2 separate regions of the Homo sapiens genome follow, and region 2 is linked to region 1. A link means that fine-mapping ties the variant in region 1 to the plasma level of a protein whose gene starts in the linked region. Region 1 holds a variant in brackets. A gene starts in the other region. All regions are shown on their forward strands.

Region 1 (11,791 bases):
TGATAGTGAGGGATACAAGACATAAGCCCTGTTTCTCTCTCAATTTCCTGCTGTATCTTTTATAAGGATAAAAATTCCTTTGGAGAACAGTCTGCTTTTGTTTATTATTCCTTCACCTTCAGTAACAATCTGAATTCTTTCCCTAATGACTCTGAAAATCCTCCAAATGATGTCACCCGTGATTTTCTACATGCCAAGTCCAAAAGTTTAATCTCAGATTTGTTTTTCTCTCCCTCATCTCAACTTTCAGCAATGTTTACCTCCTCCTCCTTGAAACTTTCTCCTTCATTAGCTTCAGTGATGGTTATTCTGTGAGGTTTTTTTTTTTCCTGTTTGTTAAACAATGGTTTTGTTCTCTGCCTTATAAATTGTGGGATTCTAGAGGAGTCTGCTTTTCTCCCAAGAAGTACCTCTTCTTTTCTTGCTTTTCATATGCTCTCCTTGAGATATCTTGGTTATTCTCATGGCTTTAAATAGCACTTATATCCAGAAGACTCATAAATCTGCAATCTAATTATGGCATCTCCAGAGTTCTGTATTTTAAAAGTTAGCAGAATCTTTAACGCTGTGGCAAAGTTTCTGGTTTTAAGCGTAAAGGTAGTAATGAGACATGAAAATACAGTGAAGCAATCAAACCTGTAATTTAGAAAAATAATTGACAGCATTTTGGAGAACAAAGCTCCTTGCTGCATGTGGTGAATAAAAAGTAAATAAAATACTGTGGCTACCCCTGAGGGACATCTCTACCCATCATCACTCAGTTACTTCAACTTCTATATGAGACAAATGGAACTCATTCTCTCGTCCCCTCCAAACCTGGCTCTTCCTCCTGCTTCATTTATCAGCAAACGACATCGAACTCTAGTAAATCATTGAATTAAAATTACTACCCACCACACACACACACATGTGTGCACACACATACCCTCCTCTTTCTCTCTCTCATCCCTTACATATAAAGATTAGTTTTTAACTGATTCTACTCCTGAAATGTAAAAGATGAGAACCTCGGGAGGTCTATATAAGAAGGCCAAGCAATTGTTAGTAGTGGGTATTTGCAGCTATTATTTCATTGCATTTTTCTTACATTGAAAAAATCTTAAGTGTTTATATTCAAGACAAGAGGGGGACTAATGAATATCCTTAGAAGGAGGCACTAAATTTCCCCCAAGCTTCTCTTTTGTGCTGCCTTCACTCTAGAATCTTTCCGACCCATCCTCTCCAATCCATATATACTTTCATTTTCTCTCTTGTGAAATAAGCTATATTCTCTCAACTAATTTTTCTGCCCACTCGGATTACAATGATGCTCCTCTTTCATTGCACTATTATAAGCTATAGCTTGTGGCTGTCTTAATCTGCTGAACTAGACCTTATAGTGTCATCAGTATTCTCCATGCTATTGTCAATGGTATGGCTATCATGTGTGACTGACCTGGGTTCAGATTCTTGCTCAAACACTAACTAGTTTTGAGACCATCTACACCATTAATAAAAATATTACTCATAGAAATAGCTACCATTTACTGGACACGTGTTCTGTGAACATTATTGTCCTCAGTGCTTTATAAGCATTATTTTAATTCTTACTATGTCATCATGTGACAAGTATTATTAGATTCACTTTAAATTCATTTTTCTGGTAAAGACACTGAGTATCAGAAGTCTGAAACATATTTGAAATCACATACAACTGGTGAAAGTCAGAGCTGAATTTTTAACTCAGGTCTTTTTAATTCCAAAGCTCGTGCTCTCAAAAACAATTGTTTTACTGAAATCTACAAGTAATATAAACTTTCTGTGACCCAGTTTCCTCATCTATAAGACAGGATATGCGCTGTGTCTAATACCAGTAGCTGGCAGGCAATGCGTTCGAAATTGGTAACTTTTCATTTTTAGTAATAGTTATTGGGCATAGAAATGAGATTCACTGACTGTGATAAATATATCAGCACACTGATTAAACCATTTGACTAAAAACAAGTTATCTAACCTATATCAGGCAGAACGAAATACCCATTCTCTACGTATTTCCTGGGAATAAATAATTCTGAAATTCTACCGTCCTCCTCAGCCCACCATACCAACATCTAATCTAATTCTGCACATTGTGAGGAAATTACTCCCTGTGGGTGAGAAAGTCCAATTCATCTAGAGTCAAGCATTTTCATTGAACAAAACAGTTTTACTTACAGAGCCCATACAGCAGTTCGGCCTGTTCCTTTCAGGCTGACTCAGAAGGCTGAGGAGGCTTTAGATTCCAGGGGAGGGCCGAGCTTGCAAATATGAGGAGACTTATTCCAGCCTGACTGGAGACAGGCACAGAGCTGAAAGGCCAATTCCTGGTGGTGGTGCTAACTCACTGTGTCTTCAGGGTGTGGAGATTCCCAGAAGACTTCTTTTGCCTCATACAGTCCTTTTATATCTGTTCCATTATGCAATTACTTACGGTGGCTATGTGCTTTATGGGCTGATGTAACCTTTTTTTCATGTGTCATTTCACTCAAAAGCTTTTTTATTTAACAGCTTTATTGTTATATCATTCACATACTATAAAATTCACCCATTTATAGTGTATGATTCAATTTTTTTTAGTAAAGTCACAGAACTGTGCAAGAACCATCATCACAATTCAATTTTAGAACATTTTTTATTACCCTTAAAAGGAACCTCATAATCACTAGCAGTCACTCTGAAGGAGATTTTAAAAAACGAAATATTGTAGCAAATTGCTAAATGACATCTCCCATTATGAGTGAGAGTCCAACTCCACCCCTTAACTCCTCAGTATCTATGATTATTCACAGCAGTATGGTTTCATTAGCCCACCTGTGGTTCTTTGCAGCAGCAGTCTTTCTCTTACAGATAAAAAATAATTCATTTACTCATCCATACATATATCCAGTAAATATTTCATAAGAATGTCCCATATTCTAAACATTATACTCAGTGATAGAGTTTTTTTTTTTAAGAATACACCATAATTCTTACTGTTTAGGATTTTAGTGTAGAAGATAGACAGGTTAACCAATAATTACATGTTAACCAATGATAAGGTTATCCTAGAGGCATGAACCAAATGCTTGGTGAATACAGTAGGTAAAAATCTTGGTTCACAACTTACTTGTGTATAAAATACGGTTTCATTTACTTTTTTATAATTTGACCTATTTCGTATTTTGAAGTCCCAACCTACCAGGTTGAAGAGAATTAGTCACAATAATTTGGGGTTCTCTCTACTTATAGTCAAATTTTGAAAATCTTGTATTATACCAAGAAAAATTGCAGGTAGGTGGGTGATTGACTTGGCCAATGATGTCACCTTCTGTCAGTTTACTATCACTCTCATTAGTCTTTAATAAATAGAATGCATAGATTGCTATAAGTTGTCCATCTTTTCTCCTTATGGCCTCTTTAGATCCTTAGATATTCCCACCAATTTGGACCACACTTGGGCATATGGGTCTTTGATTCATTCTCAGTTTCTGTCTCTTACACCCTGCATTTAATCCATTGGTAAATTATGTCAATCTCTTTGAAAAATACAATCAGAAATTGATCACTGTTTATCATCTCCAGAAATGTCACCTTTATTTAAGTCACAATTATCTCTCACTTGGGTAACTTCAGTAGTTTCCTAACCATTCTCCCTGCTTCCGATATTATCTCCTCTCCACTATCAAATCTGTTTCACTACTGAAAATGTCATGGCCTGAGATATTTTCTTCTTCATAATGTAATAAAAACAATAAATAACAAGAACAATAATATTTTATTATGCATTCTACATCCATGATACTAGGCCAAGTGTTTGTGGTAGACAGGATAATGGCCCCTAAAGATACCTATGTCTTAATGCCTGGAACCTGTGAATATGTCACCTTACATTGCAAAGGGACTTTGCAGATGTGATTAAAGTTAAATAACTTGAGATGGCAAGATTAGATGGATTAGCTGGGTGGATCCAATATAGTCACACGGGTCTTTAAAAGTAGAGAACCAGAGAGATGGCAGCATGAGAAGGATTTGATCCACTGTTGCTGGCTTTGAAGATGGCAGAAGGAGGCTACAAGCCAAGGAATGTGGAAAGCCTCCAGAAGGAGAAAAGAAGATAATTGATTTTTCCCTAGCCCCTCCATAAAGAAATGCAGCCTGGTGATTCCTTGATTTTAGCTCAGTGAGATCCATGTCAACTTTTGACTTACACAACTCTACAATAATAAATTCAGTAGAAGAATCCATTATTAGTTTGATTTATGTCTTAAACCATGTTTAAACCAAAAATTAGAGTGTAAGTAACTTACCTAAGTTTCTCAGTTATAAATGGCACAAGTAGTATTCAAAGCCTCGGCTATCTGACACCCTCTCAGTTTTCAAAACTCATTTTCTAAACAGTCTTCACATGACTATCCATTCACCACTACTTTCAATTTGAGTCATCTACACCCAAAAGCCTGCATGCATGCTGATGTGCCAAACTGAATGTTAACAGGTTGTCACTTGTGCATGCTTATTCCTTGCACATAAAGGTATTTTATTGTTGTGTTTCCGCACAGGAAACTTCTTGAGACCTTTGAAAACACTTTCTCTACCAAGTTGGGCAAATTGTAGGGCTGTGACTCTTTTCCCATTAGTCTCAGAAACTATTTGGGAATAGTCACATATTTTTATTCTTATGGTTGAAAGAATGTTACTCTTATAAGAAAAATAAAGTTACTATAGTGGTACCATGTAAATTCTGTGCCAGAGCTTAGTACATGAAAATGAAACTAGTGTGTGTACTGGTTAAAGCACCAATACACACACTGGCACACTACGTCAAAATATGGCTCTTCTCACTGCCCTATTCTCATGCCAGCCTAGCAGAACAGTAGCTGGTAATTTAACTAAACTTTCTGAAAATTTGAGTTCAATGTTCCTCCATGAAATCATACAGCAACACATCTTATTAATACATTAATATTAACTCCATTGAGTCCAGGAAACATATCATAGTCTGTGATGTCATTTGACTTCATATTAATGTTTCTGAAACTTGGTAATCCAAACAGGAAGTACCAAATTGGACATAGGAAAACTCTGCACTAGGAACTTGAAGTAAGTCTTATTTATTGACTGTCAACATTTACTACGGTAAACAGTAAAATATTCTTGGCTATCAAATCAGCAAATGTTTTTTAAAACACATAATACATAGTGTTGTGTTGCTGTGTTACAGTGGACTAAGCATTGTTTTACAATGTT[T/C]GCATGAACTTTCTGGAAGCATATTTTCCAGTATATTGTTGTCTTAAAATGTCCATAATATTCCATTTCTAAGAATTTATTGAAAGGAAGATATCAGAGATGCAGGCCATATTTTATGTACAGGAAAATTTATTGCCCCATTATTTACAGTGGTAAAAAATATAGATAAAAATTCTCAATGATACAGAATATATAAAGCATTTATATCGAGTCCTGGGATGTTATGCAACCTTTAAAATTTGTGCATATACCAGCTCAAGTGGATGGTCATGCTTGATCAGGAAATAGAAAAACAAGTTTCAGGGCTAAGACTAGCACAAGGAGCAAACAGTTTAAGATATAAAAGAAACAGGGTTTGATACAGGAGCAAGAGGCCAGAGGCAAAACAGGTAATCCAGGGTTAATGCATTGAAATTGTAGAAATAAACTTAAAAGAGAACAAACAATAACAACAGCAACGAAAACGGGTTGCTGTGTGTTACTGTTTGAATATGTCTCCCATGTTGGAAATTTAATTCCCAAAGTCATATCTTGATTAGATATGAAGACTTTGGGAGATAAGTTGGATCAGATAAGGTCATCATGATGGGACTGGTGGATTTATAAGAAGAAAAAGAGATCTGGGCTGACACAAATGCCCTTGCCCTTTTGCCATGTGATGCCCTCCACCATGTAATGGCAGCACAAAACCTCTCTCCAGAGGCTGGCACCATGCTTTTGAATTTCCTAGCCTCCAGAACTGTGAGCTAAATATACTTCTTTCCTTCACAAATTACCTAGTATTTGGTATTCTGTTATAGCAAGAGGAAATAGATTAAGACACTAAGTCAAAAACCATTTTGTTTATACTACTGTTCAGAAAAATTATTAGAACTCCATATGGCCTACTAGCCCTCCATGGTCTGATGAAAGCCTCACTCACCTCTTTTCCTGGATCCAGCCATGTTGGATTTAGCAGTTTTCCTACCCCGTTGATATGGCTAACACTGACCATTCAATTTTGGTGTATATAGAAATGTCACTCCTCCTTACCTCTCCCTGTGAACTTCTAGCTATTCCTAATATTCCTATTTATTCCATTCTTCTCTGCTCCCACTATATCTTGTTGCACATGCTTTCATTAAAGTTCTTAATTGATTTATTAAGAGAAATATTGTATAGATACTCTACATATATCTGGTATTGAACAAGATCCTGAGGGTATAACAGTGAACACGATAGATATCAACCCAAATATTACACAGTTCGAAGTCTAATGGGGGATACAAATAAGTAAATGGGAAATTAAAATACTGTATTATAATTACTCTACAAGTGGTATTCACAGAGATCTTTGCTATTGAAGGACCAATAATGTTAGCATCGCCTGGAAACTTGTTGGAAATGAAAAGAAAATTAGATCTTCTGAATTAGAACCTGCGCTTTTGCAAGATACCTAGCGCATTAATGTGCCATTCATATTTGTGAAGTGCTGGTATAGATCACCTAGGTGCTGGGACAAGTTAGCCTGTGTGATCAAGGGAGGCTAACCAAATGTAATTGATAATATGAGATCCGAGTGAGTGAAAAGGGTTTTGACAGGGGAGCTAGTAATGAGGGCAGGAGAGTAGAGTAGGGTGAGGAGATGACAGAAGGTTAAGGAAATGTTCCAGGCATGGTCAGCTGCTGTGGTGTTTCATCTGCTTGGCGGACTGAGGACCAAATTAGGGCACTGCAAAGTAGGGAAACTAAAAAGAAAAATTAAAAAAGGATAAAAAACCCCCACATAATTAAGCTTCCATTAATTTATCCACAATCTGCAATCAGAAAATGTAGGATAAAAAGTTATTTTAATTTTAATATAAATAAAAAATAAAACTGTTTTGAATTATATTTGAAACAGAGTTTAGGAATCAGTAAACATCATAATACTGCCTCAGAGAATAGAATGAGAGAAGGCTCAGACCTGAGCCAAACCATGCCATGTTTAGGAAACTGAAAATGAGCTCTGTATGACTGAAGGGGAGAGAGTAGAAATAAATGTTTCTCCACCTAAAGCAGTCGCAAGGCCAGATTTCTGAGGACCTGGGAAGCCAAAGAATTGAAAGCAGGATAATGTCCTGACCAGATTTGTGTTATAATGGTTGTCTATCTATCTGTCTGATATATGAGTTCCTTGAGAGTAGATACTACACCTTCTCATCTCAACATTGGAACATAGTATCTGACACATACTAGGCACTAAATGATAATTTAATAAAATTGCTATATTAATGAGAACAATAGTAATCATGATAAATAATAAAAATAAATTATTACAATGATTAATAACACATTTTGAGTGAGTGCAAATGTGCTAAGACCTTTTTATGGATCAATACTGGGTTATCTTATTTTACAACATAGACTTATAAAGCAGTATAACGATTTTCTCCACATTAAAAGCAAAAAACAGAGGTGATGTAGTCTAAGGTCACACGATTGGTGACAGAGCTGAGCTTTGGACCAAGGTTGTCTGGTTGTCTGGTTGGACCAAGGTTGTCTGGTTCCAAATACTTTCAGTTGAACCAATGCTATGTTGACTCTTAATGGACAGGTAGATGTAGGCAAGTGTGTAACATACTTAAGTCCTGGGACAGTACAATTAGAATAGACAACCAGTCAAAATGAGCATTGATCATTATGCCCTTCTTGTATCCACTGATTGTTAAGCCTTGGCTGGTGAATGGTTTAAATGTCTGGAGTGTGCACTAAAAAAGAGTCCGAAGCTCTTCTGTGTTCCATTTTCTGCAGCTGTGTGTAGAAGATCAGCCTGCACTTGTGTCTGTGAGCATGAACCAGTGCCCCTCAGACTGGAATTCCTAGCATGGATAGTAAGATTTTCACATTTATTTCCCTGTAACAGCCTGGACGTCTGTTTTTGCTTCTGTATCTTGAAAGCTTCTATTTAAATTGTGCATTTTTTCCCACGGAGTCTCATACATTATGTGGCACATTTATCTGGGACTGTTAAGATTTCCCCCCTAACCCATTGAGGTATTTATGGGGGAAGATTATGCTTCTATTAGTCCAGAAAATACCTAAAAAGAGAGCATATTTTCTCAGGTTCTTTATGAACTTCTGGGAAAAAATGCATCTTTCCAGATTTTCCTAGGGATCTAGAATCTTGTGACATGAGAAGAAGAAAAAAATTAAACAGGATAATTAAATTTTCTGCTCTGTAGCAACTCTAACGGGAATAGTTAACTCGTCCCCTTCTTCCATACAGCAGGACTTTGTAAGGTAATGGCCTCTTGATACAGCCTCTTATGCCAAGAAACATGTTTAAATAGTTGTCCTTGAAATTTACCAAGCTTCCAAGCTCACCATTAATTGTGAAACGCTGTATTAATGACAAAGCTGAAAGCCATTTATGAGTGTCCACAGCTTAAATAGAAGCTGTCTGTCAAACATGGTTAATTCTCCACCACAGTGGTAAACATGCTGGTAGCAGTTTTAGGACAGAGCAGACTAGTATCTCTGTAAGCTAGCAAGGGACACACAAGGGACTCATAAAGTTTTGTAGTCTTCCTTTAGTCACTTCCTCTTAAGTTGTCATTTTCTGTGACTATGCACAGGTTAGCAACAGCTCCCAGGAAATTCAGGGGAGGGCCTGGGCCCTCAATCAGAAAACCACTGCACTACCTTCAGTGAATGTAGTAACTCAGCAACCCCTTTCCTATTTGGGTTCCGTGTCTCGTGATTGCTGTGAAACCGGCAAATGGCAGCTGAGCAAACTCAGCTGTTAATGATCCGTTAACAACAACACTTCTTCCTTACTCTGGCTCTATGCAAAGTTGTCCTACAGCTGTTTAGGGCTCAAATTGCTCTTGAATGAGAATTGAAATTGCAGTTCATCTATAGAATTATCTTTTGGGGAAGAAAGAGTGAAGATAGACTGAAAATATGTTGCCTTTTACAATTTGTTATTTGGAGCACAAAGGGTTAACAGGACACAGCTGTAGGGAGTTCTCCCCTAGGAATTTGCTTTTCTGCTGGGTAAATGACTCTCACCAGGTGACTTCTAGGCTCCTTATAAAGGCTGTTTTTCTCAAATCTGGTAGTTCTCCTATTCCTGAATTTTTTCCCTATGTTTTCTCCTGGCAGAAGAGGACCTCTTTGTCCAGGGGCAGGGCTGATCAGGGGCTGATTCCGCAGCTATAGTAGTACAGAACCTTTCTGCAAGTAAGTTAGTGAGGTTGAGATAACTCTCTCTCACTTGCTTTGCATTAATAGATTCTCTGCTGTGTGGGATGATCCTTCAAATAGCAGGGGGCAGGATCAAATAACCTCACCTTCCAGACCCAAGAATTCTGTGCACAAGGTCAGTGTTGTAGTGCATTGAAGACAGTTATAAATAAATTAGGTACTGTATAACCTTCAGATAGTATATGAAACAAACGCGGAAGTATTCAGAGTAAATGTGAGCATGAACTCAGTAGTGTATTTTCATACGTTATGTCAACTCAAAAATATCGTTGTAGCGTTCAAAATAGTTATTCCAAATATAGACTACAGTCATCAGCATGTGTTTGTTCATGCCACAGTAAAAAAAGAAAAAAAAATTTAAATAAGGAGTTTGCGAGAGCATGGCGTTTGGAGTAAGAACAGAGCTCAATTCCTGAATCTGCCATTGGCTTGTTGGGTGAATTTGAGAACGTCGTATGTTTCCTCTGAGACTCGATTATCTAATCTTACCCTGCTTTCTCACCCATAAAGGGGAGTTATTAATACCCAATAATGGTGTTGTGATAGTAATGAATGTGAAGCTTTGTTGTGAGGGCTGTCTATTTAGATGTTCCTGGTAGTCTGGTAATAGGGATGTTTAAGTTATAGGCTCTGTCATGGAAGAATTCTCAGTGGGGGAGAAAGAGACACTTAAAGAGAACTGTTTAAGAAGAGTTTAATATTTGCTCATTAGTTTTAGCGCAGGACAACTCAAGACTGGTTTAAGAATCACAGAATTTTTTTTAAAAAGCTATTATTGGCCGGGAGCAGTGGCTCACGCCTGTAATCCCAGCACTTTGGGAGGCTGAAGTGGGCAGATCACGAGGTCAGGAGATCGAGACCATCCTGGCCAACATGGTGAAACCCCATCTCTACTAAAATACAAAAAATTAGCTGGGTGTGGTGGCATGTACCTGTAGTCCTAGCTACTCGGGAGGCTGAGGCAAGGGAATTGCTTGAACCTGGGAGGAGTAGGTGATTGTGCCATTGCACTCCAGCTCCAGGAGCAGGGATGGTGGGGGCGGGTGGTGGTGGTGGTGGTGGGGGGAGCTGTTCTTGGACCCATGTTTGCTAATAGAGTTCCCTCTGTTACAAGAATCCTATTACGTTTCCCTTTGATTGCAGGAGTTGAAGAAAGATTCTATGAGCTATGTACAGTGGAAAGGGGGACTCAGATTCAGTGAAGTAAATTGTTTGGCACGTAGAAGGCATTAAATACATTACCACTAATTTTATTAGAGAGAAATATAGCCAAGTACTTAATCTGTTGGGTTTTTCTTTTATGTTTTATTTTTATTTTTGCTGTTTACAATATAGCTATTCTATTTATTTTTATTGTGATAAAATCACACTTGTAATCCCAGCACTTTGGAGGCCAAGGCAGGTGTATTCCTTGAGTTCAATAGTTCAAGACCAGCCTGGGCAACATGGTGAAACCCCATCTCTACAAAAAATAAAAAAAAATTATCCAGGCATGATGGTGTGTGCCTGTAGTCTCAGCTACTTTACAGGTTCTTTACTTGGCGAGCTGAGGCAGGAGGATCACTGGAGCCTGGAAGTTTGAGGCTACAGTGAGCAGTGATTGCGCCACTGCACTCCAGCCTGGGCAACAGAGCAAGACCCTATCTCAAAAAAAAAAAAAAAAAAAAAAGACAGAAAGAAAGAAAGAAAGAAAAGAACACTTAACATGAGATTTACTCTAACTTTTAATAGCACAATACAGTATTGTTAACTATAAGTAAAATGTTGTATATCAGATCTCTGGAACTAATTCTTCTTTAGTAACTGAAACTTTATACCTGTTTAACAGCATCTCCCCCATTTTTCCCTCTCCCTAGTCTGTTGCAATCACCATTCTAGTTTCTGTTTCTATGAGTTTGGCTAAGAGATACTTCACATATAAGTGGAATCATGAAGTATTTCATTTCAGGTTCATCCATGTTGTAGCATGTGTCAGAATATTACTGCTTTTAAGGTTGAATAGTATTCTATTACATGTATGTCTTGTGCTTTCTTTATGCATTCATTTGTTGATGGACATTTAGGTTGTTTCCATATGTTGGCTATTGTGACTAATTCTGCAATGAATATGGAAGTGCAGATACCTCTTTGACTAACTGATTTCCTTTCCTTTGGATATATACTCAGAGTGGATGTGCTGTTTTTCACAGTGGTTGCATGATTTTACATTCTCTCCAACTGTGTACAATAGGTCCAATTTCTTCTCATTCTTGTCAACACTTGCTATTGTTTTTTATAATAAGTATTTTCATAGCTATGAGGTTATATCTCACTGTGATTT
Region 2 (11,791 bases), not on the chromosome of region 1:
CATTAAGTATATCTCCTAATGCTATCCCTCCCCCCTCCCTCCACCTCACGACAGGTCCTGGTGTGTGATGTTCCCCTTCCTGTGTCCAAGTGTTCTCATTGTTCAATTCCCACCTATGAGTGAGAACATGAGGTTTTTTGTCCTTGCAATAGTTTGCTGAGTTTGGTTTTTTGTCCTTGCCATAGTTTGCTGAGAATGATGGTTTCCAGCTTCATCCATGTCCCTACAAAGGACATGAACTCATCCTTTTTTATGGCTGCATAGTATTCCATGGTGTATATGTGCCACATTTTCTTAATCCAGTCTATCATTGATGGACATTTTGGTTGGTTCCAAGTCTTTGCTATTGTGAATAGTGCTGCAATAAACATACGTGTGCATGTGTCTTTAGATTCTAACTATTGTAACAACCCACTGGGGGAGTTCGCTGTCAGAGTTAGAAATAAAAGCATAGTTTTGTGATATCCTTACTCGGTCTTTTGTCATTTTATCTGGGAAGACATCCAATTGCATAACAATGACTTGGTTGTCTGGGTCTTTGTTTCACAAGTTCCAGAATGAGAATAGAATGCAGTAGAAAGGTAAAACCAAGGTGGCCCATACTACAGGAAGAAGCTTATTACTTAAACATATTCTGGGTTTCAGCTGTTTATGGGACCTGGTAGATACATATATGCCCCCCGGCTATTCTCAAATATAATGTTGAAGGACTATATAATATTAGGAAACATTTATTGAGCATTTTGGTACTTTGAGAAAAGCACTTTGTTTAAATTCTCATATTTGACTATTGTGACAGGAAAATAAATCTCAGGACTCAAAAATCACTAAGCCAAAGGGAAAAGTCAAGCTGGGAACTGCATCAGGCAAACCTGCCTCTCATTTTATTCCTAACTAAGATAACTACAAAGATTTAACAAGCTACATACCTCCCTCACAATTTGCCCACTAGGAAATTTTTGTGGGCCCCAAAATCTTTACCCTGAAATAGTTCTGTCAAATTTCATTCTGACAATGTAAATTGATAGCTTATCTTCACAGGTGTGGGACAAAGAACAGAACTCAAAATCATCCCTCTGCTCACCTGAGACAAATGCATGTCTGATTGCTTCCTCTCTCCTATGTTTATCTTATGTAAAAATGCAGATTCACTGAGCTAGATTAATGCACAAGTGACTATTTCTCTACTCCGCTATCACATGTGAATGGTTGATCAAAGGCTCAAAAGAATGCAACCCTTTGCTTCTCGCCTACCCACACCTCTTAAAAAGTATTCCTCGGCTGGTTGCAGTTACTCACACCTGTAATCCCAGCACTTTTGGAGTCAGAGGCAGTTGGATCACGAAGTCAAGAGATCTAGACCACCCTGGCCAATATGGTGAAACCCCGTCTCTACTAAAAATGAAAAAATTAGCTGGGTGTGATGGTGGTCCCAACTACTCGAGAGGCTGGGGCAGGAGAATCACTTGAACCTGGGAGGTGGAGGTTGCAGTGAGCCAAGATTGCACCACTGCACTCCAGACTGGCGACAGAGCGAGACTCCATCTCAAAAAAAAAAGTTATTCCTCTTTCCCCAATATCCACTCTTTCCCCTTTAAATATTGAAGCCCTCAAACTCATCTTTGGAGAAAGACACAGACCTGTCTCCTGGGTTCACATCCCTAACCATAGGAACATAAACTTCTAAATTGATTGAGAACTGTCTCAGATATTTTTTGGCTTACACTATGAATCAATGTTTAAGTTTTCAGTAACAATACACAGTAACCCAAACATTAAGAATGAATAGTTATTTCTGGATGATGAGATAATAGCTGATGTTTATTTTTTATGTATATTTTTAGATTTTCCCATCACCAGCATTTTCGGTTTACTGTTTAAAAGTTGTTTACAATTTTTTAAAAAGAAAACAGCACAGTGAGCTTGGTTTATAGCATTTTTATTGCAATTTTGCGCAGCATTTGAAATTTCAAAGCATTAGTAGAATTTGAAAAGAACAGTTCATTAACCTTGGCAAAGGGAGAAAATAGAGATCACTGTGGTTTCAACCGCTCAGCTATACCTTTTAGAAAAGAAGTTTTGCCTACCCAAAAGCCATCATTTTAATAACACAATATTAGTGTTCTACCAGGCAGTAAAACACTGTAATTAAACATGTGATAAAGCTCTGCCACCCATTGGGTATTTGCTCTTGTCTTAGCAAAGAGCACTCAAATCAGTCATGGAACAGCCATCAGTGCAACACAAAGTTTGTAAATCTTGTCTTGACATCACTGAATGCTTCTTTGACTTCCAAAGCTCTTCAGTGGGCATCTGTCCACCCCAAAGACGGTCTTCCCCTGAGGCATCCACCTTCGGAAGGTTTTGCGCTGGATTTTCCTCAGAAAACTCACGTTTATGTGGGAGCTGGAAGGAGTTTCCTGTCTCAGCTGTATGGAAGAGAAAAAAATAATACATCCTTAGACAGCTCCTACAAAGAAGGCAGCAACCACATTCCACTCCTGGGGAAATGAACTGGATCCCTAAAATGAAATAGAATCATACACATAATTTTTTAAAATGTTGGCCTGGTTTCAGAGAGATTAGACATTTTGGGGAGAGCACAGTCATCTCCACTGTCCTCATTTTACAGAGGCAGAAACTTGAGTGCAAAGATGAGGAGTGACAGTCAGTGTTGCTCAGCTAGTCGGGACTTGACTTCTTTTACTCGCTACCTCTGCTGGATGACCAGCAGCTTCCAATATTAGTTATGTGCTATAAACAAAAAACACATAAACAAAAAAAAACCCTGTGTATGCCCTGCAATCTCGATCAGTAAAGAAGGAAATGGAGATTTAAACCTCTATATCTGAAAATAAAAAGTGAAATTCACAGTTTTTGCCTAAGTGTTGTTTCCAAAGTTCATATATAAGCTTCTCTCACTTTAATTTAGTTCAAATTGACTTATCAATGCCTTAGCACACCAGCAGGCACCATGAAAAACTAGGTGAACAGATGCTGGTTGGTAAACCAGTAATTGATCAGATAAATAATGTGTGGGAAAACACTGAAAATCTGAGAAAGATTGAATAATAAGTAGTATGATTTCAGTGATGTCCAACAGAGCTAGCCTTATAGATATCCATTCCACTCCCCTATGTGTTTCAGAGATATCCCAAATGTATTTTTATAGTGCATTTTGGTTTGCTATTACAGAGATTGTTGTAAATCCTGGTAAATTATGCTTACTCTCTTAAGATTAAAAACCCATATAATTTTTGTTAGCAACTAGTCATATGAACTTCAATATTAAAGTGGTACTGAAAATGGAAAATACATGCTTTTTCAACACATTAGCCCACCCAAAGATGAACAGTTTAGGTCATTTTCTAAAAGGTTTTTATTACCAACATCATTTTAAATTAAACTGAAACCTTAACAATCATACATATAGTCGCAACATTTATTATGTAATCACATTTTTCCTTTTTAACTTTTTAGTATAAAACATAGCAAATACAACCAATTATTAAAATACACTCTTAAGCAAGGCACAGAAAGACAAACACCACATGATCTCACTGATATGTGGAATCTAAAAACGTCAAACTCAAAAATGTATAGCGGAGAACGATGGTTATCAGAGGGTGAGGGTGAGGGGGATGGTTGGGGAAGAGATGGTCAAGAGTACAGAATTTCCATTAGAAGGAATAATTTCAAGAAGTCTATTGTACAACATGGTGACTATAGTTAATAAAAATGCATTGTATTCCTGAAATTGCTAAAAGAGTAGATTTCAAGTGTCCTCATCACAAAAACATAAGTATGTGAGGTAATGCATATGTTAATTAGCTTGATTTAGCTATTCCACATGTATATTGTATGTATACCTATTTCAAAACAATATGTTGTACACAATAAATGTATATAATTTTTACCAATTAAAAAAATAATTTTTTAAATAGGATTTTCAGCCATGCCCAGTGGCTTATGCCTGTAATCCCAGTGCTCTGGGAGGCCGAGACGGAAGATTGCTTGAAGCCAGGAGTTTGAGACCAGCCTGGGCAACATTGCAAGACCCCACCTCTACAAAATATTTAAAAATTAGCCAGATGTGGTGGCACACACCTGTAGTCCTACCTACTCAAGAGGCTGAGGTGTGAGGATCACTTGAGTGCAGGGGTTTGAGGCTTCAGTGAGCTATGATTGTGCCAGCCTGGGTGAGAGGGCAAGACCCTGTCTCCAATCAAATAAATAAATAAATAAATAAAAATCTAAAAATAGGATTTTAAATAAATTCTACCTCATACTTTAATATGGAATTAACAGAAAGAATTTCAGTCAAATTTTTAAGTTAGTTGAATTGAATAATAAAGAAATATAGTGAAGTCAGCCGCTTCACCGTTTCTGAAAGACATTTGGTTCATTTCTTCCTTCAAAATCCTGATCAGACAATTCCTACTACTAGAATTCCCACCCTGCTTCCCCACCACCTTCCATAATCCCCAAATCCTTCAGGGCCTCTGTCAGTAACCACCACCTCCATGATGCTGTCACCTATTACAAAATAGGTGACATTTTGTAATAGGTGACATTTTGTAACATTCTCTTTCCCACCCGAGACTCAGTATGGAATTAGTAAAGACCTTGGCTCTTGAAGCCAGATAGACCCAGTTTCCTACCTAACCACATTTTCACCAGCTGGGAGAAGAATTTTCTTCTTGGTAAAATGATAAATGGTGGTAATTTTGCTTGCTTCCCAGGATCCTTATCAGAAAGCTGAATGAAATGTTGCACATGTAACTTCCCAGCACTTAAAAGTGCTCAATTAAGGTCAGCTTCTTTCCTTGCATCCATATTTAACAACTGCCGGAATTCTAACTTATTATATTGTACAATTATTCATGAGTGAAAGTCTTGCTACTTCAACACGCTCCTTGAAATCACATGCTTCGCCATAGCCTCCAAAGTACCTTCCACAGATGCTGAGCCCATTGAAGTAGTCATGCGATTAAATGATTTCAAGCAGGGGACTAAAAAATGAGGTAGTTATTTTTTGAAAGGTAGCATGCTCATCACTTTCCCAAGCCAAATTCAGTATATTTTGATAATTAATCCCTTAAATTGACATAAAAAATGCCTCAACAGTACTTAGAGAAACACTTAATAAAATAATGGTTTAAAACACAGCTTGAAAAAATAAAAGAGACATGTGAAAGGAAAATAGAGGAGACACATGAGTTACTGTTACCTTGCTGAGCTTGAGGGATCCCCTCCTGATGCCTTCTCCACCTGGAGCTAGCACAGATATAGATGACTGTCCGTATGTATTCTAGCCCACAGAGTCTCACAGACTCCTTGCTCCGCACTTCTGAGATGGCAAATAGGACAGAGAATAAAAACAGAGTGAAAATGGAGCCCTTCATTTTGCTGAGGACTGAATGTGAATCTGATATGGTAAATATAGTCAAATCAAATTCTGGAGTGACTGTCACTCTCTTGACCAATTTATACTAACTTTCCTGACATTTCATTGGTCAGAACCTCATTTTTACAATATTTGCTAAGCACATAGGGTTACACAGTAAAGTTTTGAAAATGCGGTTTTATGAGTATTGCCAGCTATTCAGTCTCTCCTTAATACCATCAACGCATCTGTGAGATGATAAAAACAGATGCCCTCTTGGAAGGCATTATGGAAAACTCACGGACTTTGAAAGTTGCCAAGAATGAGTTTCACTCTCAGCCTTGCTACTTACTGAGTGACATAAGGCAAGTTTTAAACTTTTTGAGTTGAGGCAAAGCCTGGTGGCTAACACCTGTAACCCCAGCACTTTGGGAGGCCAACACAGATGGATCACTTGAGGCAAGGAGTTCAAGACCAGCCTGGGCAACATAGTGAGACCTCCATCTCTACAAAAAATTTAAAAATTACTCAGGCACAATGGCATACTTGAGCCCAGGAGTTCAAGGTTACAATGAGCCATGACAGTGCCACTGTACTCCAGCCTGGGTGACAGTGAAACCGTGTCTCTAAAAAACAAACAAACAAACAAGTAAACAAAAAAACCTTTTGAACCTCAATAACCATATCTCTGGAATGGGAAGACCCATCTCACAGGGGTTTTTTTGAATATTGAAAGCAATATGAATGTCAGAACAATGGGATATCACACTTAAGTAGGCAATTTCTTATGTCCTGAGTTTGAATCCTGGCCGTTGCTGTTGCCTGGCTGTTACTTACCAGATCTAGACTCTTAAGCAAGTTTTTAAGGCATCCTTCTTTGTAAAATAGTGTTGATGATTGTAACTACCTCATAGGTCTAATGTGATAACATGCGTCCCACTTGGTACAATAAACAGCTAATAGGCCAGGCGCAGTGGCTCACGCCTGTAATCCCAGCACTTTGGGAGGCCGAGGCAGGTGGATCACGAGGTCAGGAGATCGAGATCATCCTGGCTAACACGGTGAAACCCTGTCTCTACTAAAAATACAAAACATTAGCCAGGCGTGGTGGTGGGCACCCGTAGTCCCAGACACTCAGGAGGCTGAGGCAGGAGAATGGCATGAACCCGGGAGGTGGAGCTTGCAGTGAGCTGAGATCACGCCACTGCCCTCCAACCTGGGCGACAGAGCGAGACTCTGTCTCAAAACAAAAACAAACAAACAAACAAACAAACAAAAACAAAAAAAAACAGCTACTAATTATTAGCTGCTTCTCCTCTCACCATCAGAATAGAAGACTAGAAAAGATAACTTCAGAATTCAGAAGATTTTATCTGACTAGGATCTTGTTATCCTTCACCTATGACCTAGGTACACTTTTCTCAACACACGTATTTATGATAATAGAAAGCTAAGTCCATATCCCAAATAGCTAAATAATGAAATTTCTCTTTTGGTAAAACCTCTGAAAGCACTAGCTCTTGCAAAGGTCTTACCTAAACTGAGAATCCCAGAGTTTGGGATCTTAAAGAACTGTTGACTCAGGTTTTAGCAAGTTGAACAAATAATGGTTCAGTTGATTCTGTGAAATCCTTGTCTGTGATTCCTGGTTGGAAAAAAATTGCTAAGTCTGTGGCCATGATCATATCATTTGTACTTCTTGTGAAATCACTGTTCTTCTGTAGGGAAGCTGGAAAATACAACAAAATAATCTGTTATCTAATTGAAAGCATTCTTTGCTGTAAAAAATAAAAATTATTTCTAAGAGTCTTGCTTTCTCCATTTCTTTGGCTGTAGTGTGAAGAATGGATTAAGAAAGGCAAGACTTGAGAAAGGAAAAACAGAAAAAGGCTGTTTCAATAATTTAGATATGATGGTGGCCTAAACTAAGGCCATGGAAGAGAGATAGGACACATGTGTATTCAAAATATAGAAGGGCTTGGTACTGACTGGGTATCAGGGGCAATGGAGAGAAAGATGTCAAATATGATACCTCGATTTCTGGCTTGTTCAACTGGGAGGTAGGGCGGTCATTTGCTAAGAAAGGGACCAAAGAAGCAGAAATGGTTCTGTCATCAGAGAAAGCTACTCCATCTTTGGATGGGTCAAAATCAGCATCTTTCATCAACTCCAGAGGGACGTCTGTATTACCATGCTTAGCACATCCACAACATAACAGCTATTGAGCCATGTATTACCAAACTTCTTCCCTTCTTTGGAGATTTATAGTGCATATCTTGACAATGCCAGTTTTAACATAGCACTGCAGTAGATCTATCATCAGTGGCTATGGATTGGGCTTCTGCACAACCCCAGGGATATTCAGCCAAGGGACGATCCCTACCTTGGATGTCAGATGGACTCTGGCATGATCCTGCTATCACCACACTTGATGCCCCTAGGTGCAAAGTAGTCCCCTCTTCTACCAGCTCTTAATACCTCATTAGGGCTCATTTAGTTTGGGATGGAAGGCTGGCAATACTTGAGCTCATTCTGTGACCTAATGGAGGCAAGTTAGACAGCCAAGTAGCTACCCAGATGAAAAAGCTCATGACAATAATAAAAGCCCTAGATGTGAAGCCTGAAATTTTGGGGCTTATTTTCCCCATTTGTATATTGAGAGGGTTGGATTTAATTGTTAAAAGTCTTCTCTGCACTTGAAATTATCAGTCTTGCTATAATTGTCTGATTATGTTACTCCCACCTCACAAACCTTCAGTGGCTCACCATTACCTCCAGAAGACAATCCAAACAATATCACATTTAATGCTTTCCACTCAGGTACCCAAACATCACTTTTTTCACATACCTCAAGGTCCATGAAAGGCTAACCAACTGAAAAGGAATCTTTCCATCTTTTGAGTAACCACAGTTTCTTTTTTGCACCTCTCACAGGAGCACTTAATCCCTTTCATTTGGAGATGGACGTGATTTTTCTTCCTCATTCTGGTCTGTAACTCAGTTTACTATCTATGTGGCAATTATTATGTGTCTTATTTCAGGTTTCCTTCGGATAGCTCTAACAAAATACCAGAGACTGGGTAGCTTATAACAACAGAAATTTATTTCTCACGGTTCTGGAGCCTGGGAAGTCCAAGATGAAGGTGACAGCATGGTCCGGATTCTAGGACCTCTCTCTGTGTCCTTTCACAGAAGATGGGGCAAGCTGGCTCTCTGGGGTCTCTAAGGTCATCAATCCCATTCATGAGGGTCCTGCCTTCATGACCTATTCACCTCCCAAAGACCCCATCTCCTAATTTCATCACCTTGGGGGTTAGGATTTCAACATAGGAGACACAATATGTAATTTTCCGCTCTGAGTTTTAATTTCTCCATCTATGAGGAGATAATAATCTGTGTTTTATAATGTTATTGTGAAGCAAAATGAGTTAACACAAGTACAGCACCTAGAATAATATATAATTCAATAAATAATAAATTAACAATGTCATGAACAAGGGATTAGAAAATATTATTTTTGGTTGGGACTAGCTACTATGGATGACTCTTCTGTATAACTCTTAATCTCAAAACCATCCATAAATTTGCACTGCTGTCGTCTTTTTCTTTCCTCCCTTCCTTCATCCTTTCCTTGCCTTCTTCTTTCCTTTCATCCTTCCACAAACAAGTTCTAATAAAGAAAGGTCTTATGGTACTGTTTCTTAAAGTGTTTTCTTCAGAACATGAGTCTTTGCAGATGGTCTTTGAATATTTTTTAAAAAGGATTCCATGATAGTAGTCTCTTTCTTTGAGATTAATAATGCCTACTAATATAGTAGAGCCCAGAGAAGACTTATAGTTATGAAATTTCTTTAACTTTGTTTAATTCAATGTTTTCACAACTTATTTGATGTTGGAAATAACTCCATTGTGAAATTGATTAACATCTGGGATTGCTGTGAATTTCTAGAGTAGACGTATCTCTAGTTCTCCTCTGTCCTGACACATGGTAGGGTTGTATTTCTCTGCTCTTTAAAATTGGGCAACACCATGTGGCATATTTTGGCAAATAAAATGTGAGTGGATGTGACATATGTCACTTCTGCCTGAAATTTAAGGATCGGTGTATGATCCTCCAGTTCTCCCTCTTCCTGGCTGTGGTTACCAACAACATTCCTGATGTGGGAACCTAATCACTGAGTCAGAACAATATGGAGCATAACTGCCCACTGATCTGTAATGAATATGTAATATGAATGGAAAAGAAACCAGCCCTCAGAAATAATGCCGCATATCTACAACTATCTGATCTTTGACAAACCTGAGAAAAACAAGCAATGGGGAAAGGATTCCCTATTTAATAAATGGTGCTGGGAAAACTGGCTAGCCATATGTAGAAAGCTGAAACTGGATCCCTTCCTTACACCTTATACAAAAATCAATTCAAGATGGATTAAAGACTTAAACGTTAGACCTAAAACCATAAAAACCCTAGAAGAAAACCTAGGCATTACCATTCAGGACATAGGCATGGGCAAGGACTTCATGTCTAAAACACCAAAAGCAATGGCAACTAAAGACAAAATTGACAAATGGGATCTAATTAAACTAAAGAGCTTCTGCACAGCAAAAGAAACTACCATCAGAGTGAACAGGCAACCTACAAAATGGGAGAAAATTTTCACAACCTACTCATCTGACAAAGGGCTAATATCCGGAATCTACAATGAACTCAAACAAATTTACAAGAAAAAAAACAAACAACCCCATCAAAAAGTGGGTGAAGGACATGAACAGACACTTCTCAAAAGAAGACATTTATGCAGCCAAAAAACACATGAAAAAATGCTCATCATCACTGGCCATCAGAGAAATGCAAATCAAAATCACAATGAGATACCATCTCACACCAGTTAGAATGGCAATCATTAAAAAGTCAGGAAACAACAGGTGCTGGAGAGGATGTGGAGAAATAGGAACACTTTTACACTGTTGGTGGGACTGTAAACTAGTTCAACCATTGTAGAAGTCAGTGTGGCAATTCCTCAGGGATCTAGAACTAGAAATACCATTTGACCCAGCCATCCCATTACTGGGTATATACCCAAAGGACTATAAGTCATGCTGCTATAAAGACACATGCACACGTATGTTTACTGCAGCATTATTCACAATAGCAAAGACTTGGAACCAACCCAAATGTCCAACAATGATAGACTGGATTAAGAAAATGTGGCACATATACACCATGGAATACTATGCAGCCATAAAAAATGATGAGTTCATGTCCTTTGTAGGGACATGGATGAAATTGGAAATCATCATTCTCAGTAAACTATCGCAAGAACAAAAAACCAAACACCGCATATTGTCACTCGTAGGTGGGAACTGAACAATGAGAACACATGGACACAGGAAGGGGAACATCACACTCTGGGGACTGTTGTGGGGTGGGGGGAGGGGGGAGGGATAGCATTGGGAGATATACCTAATGCTAGATGACGAGTTGGTGGGTGCAGCGCACCAGCATGGCACATGTATACATATGTAACTAACCTGCACAATGTGCACATGTACCCTAAAACTTAAAGTATAATAATAATAATAAAAAAAAGAAAAAAAAAGAAACCTTTATCATTTGAAGTCACTGAGATTTGGAGATTGCTCGCTATAACAACATAACCTGGCTTATCCTGACTATTATAATTATCTTACAGTTATTTACATGTTACAGATGGAGAGAACGTTTATAATGATTCAAGTTTCTAGATCAAAGCAAAATAAGTTATTTGGCCTTAACAACTGGAATAAATTACCACATTTTCAATATGATTGATTATATGAAGGCCTACCATTAATGTGTACCAAAACCCAAATTAACAACCAAACAATGAATTCAGTAAATATATCACTCACTTATTTACCATTTATAAAGGAACTATGACGACAGTATACTTAACAGATGGTGTTTGGAATAGGTTGGCATGAGTTGTATATACTGTTTGTGGCATTGGATTTTGGAAATCAGATATCAGTTCTTCCATTTAATATTTATGTGACCTTAATACTTTAGATTTTAAGACATACTTAAAATCTCTGAATCTCAGTTTCTTCATTTGTAAAATAGAGATAATAATACAAACTTTATTAGGCTAATTGTAAGGATTAAATGATCCAAAGAGTGCTGATCAGAGTCTCTAGCACAAGGAAACTTTCAATAGACTGATCATTGATGGAAATTATAATGGTGGGAATGCCACCAAATAGAACCTTGGTATTAGAATGTTAAACTTTTAGGATTGCTACTCTAGTTCCCAGCTAAGAGACCTTGAGGATGTATTTAACCTGTAATTTGGTTTTCTGATTTGTTACATTGAAAAATATCACAGGATCAATTGCGGTAATGTTAATTATAGCTCTGATAAA

Alleles and levels. Positions count from the first base shown, and alleles are read on the strand shown. Strength reflects both the effect of a copy and how common the allele is.
For the plasma level of the protein whose gene starts at base 5,460 in region 2, allele T in region 1 goes with a higher level than allele C (moderate association).

What was found. A credible set is the group of variants that fine-mapping cannot tell apart. PIP is the chance, under the fine-mapping model, that this variant and not a neighbour inherited with it causes the effect. The UK Biobank Pharma Proteomics Project read protein levels with antibody pairs (Olink). The fine-mapping took linkage between variants from a reference panel, not from the people measured, so its PIPs are less certain.
Region 2: it holds the start of INSL5, and the variant in region 1 is the best candidate, but not a certain one, in a credible set for the plasma level of the INSL5 protein (UK Biobank, PIP 0.58).

What each region holds. Positions count from the first base shown.
Region 1 is chr11:4,695,460-4,707,250 of GRCh38, forward strand. OR51E2 (olfactory receptor family 51 subfamily E member 2) reads right to left here and starts at 2,394. Exons shown (of 2, transcript NM_030774.4): 1 at 2,194-2,394. It overlaps OR51C1 (olfactory receptor family 51 subfamily C member 1), which reads right to left and starts at 2,394. Exons shown (of 2, transcript NM_001396051.1): 1 at 2,194-2,394. The coding sequence starts at 2,202. It overlaps MMP26 (matrix metallopeptidase 26), which reads left to right and starts at 9,325. Exons shown (of 8, transcript NM_021801.5): 1 at 9,325-9,586. The variant T/C (reference allele first, on the strand shown) is at 5,245.
Region 2 is chr1:66,795,817-66,807,607 of GRCh38, forward strand. INSL5 (insulin like 5) reads right to left here and starts at 5,460. Exons shown (of 2, transcript NM_005478.6): 1 at 5,231-5,460; 2 at 1,924-2,429. The coding sequence starts at 5,405. The coding sequence ends at 2,197.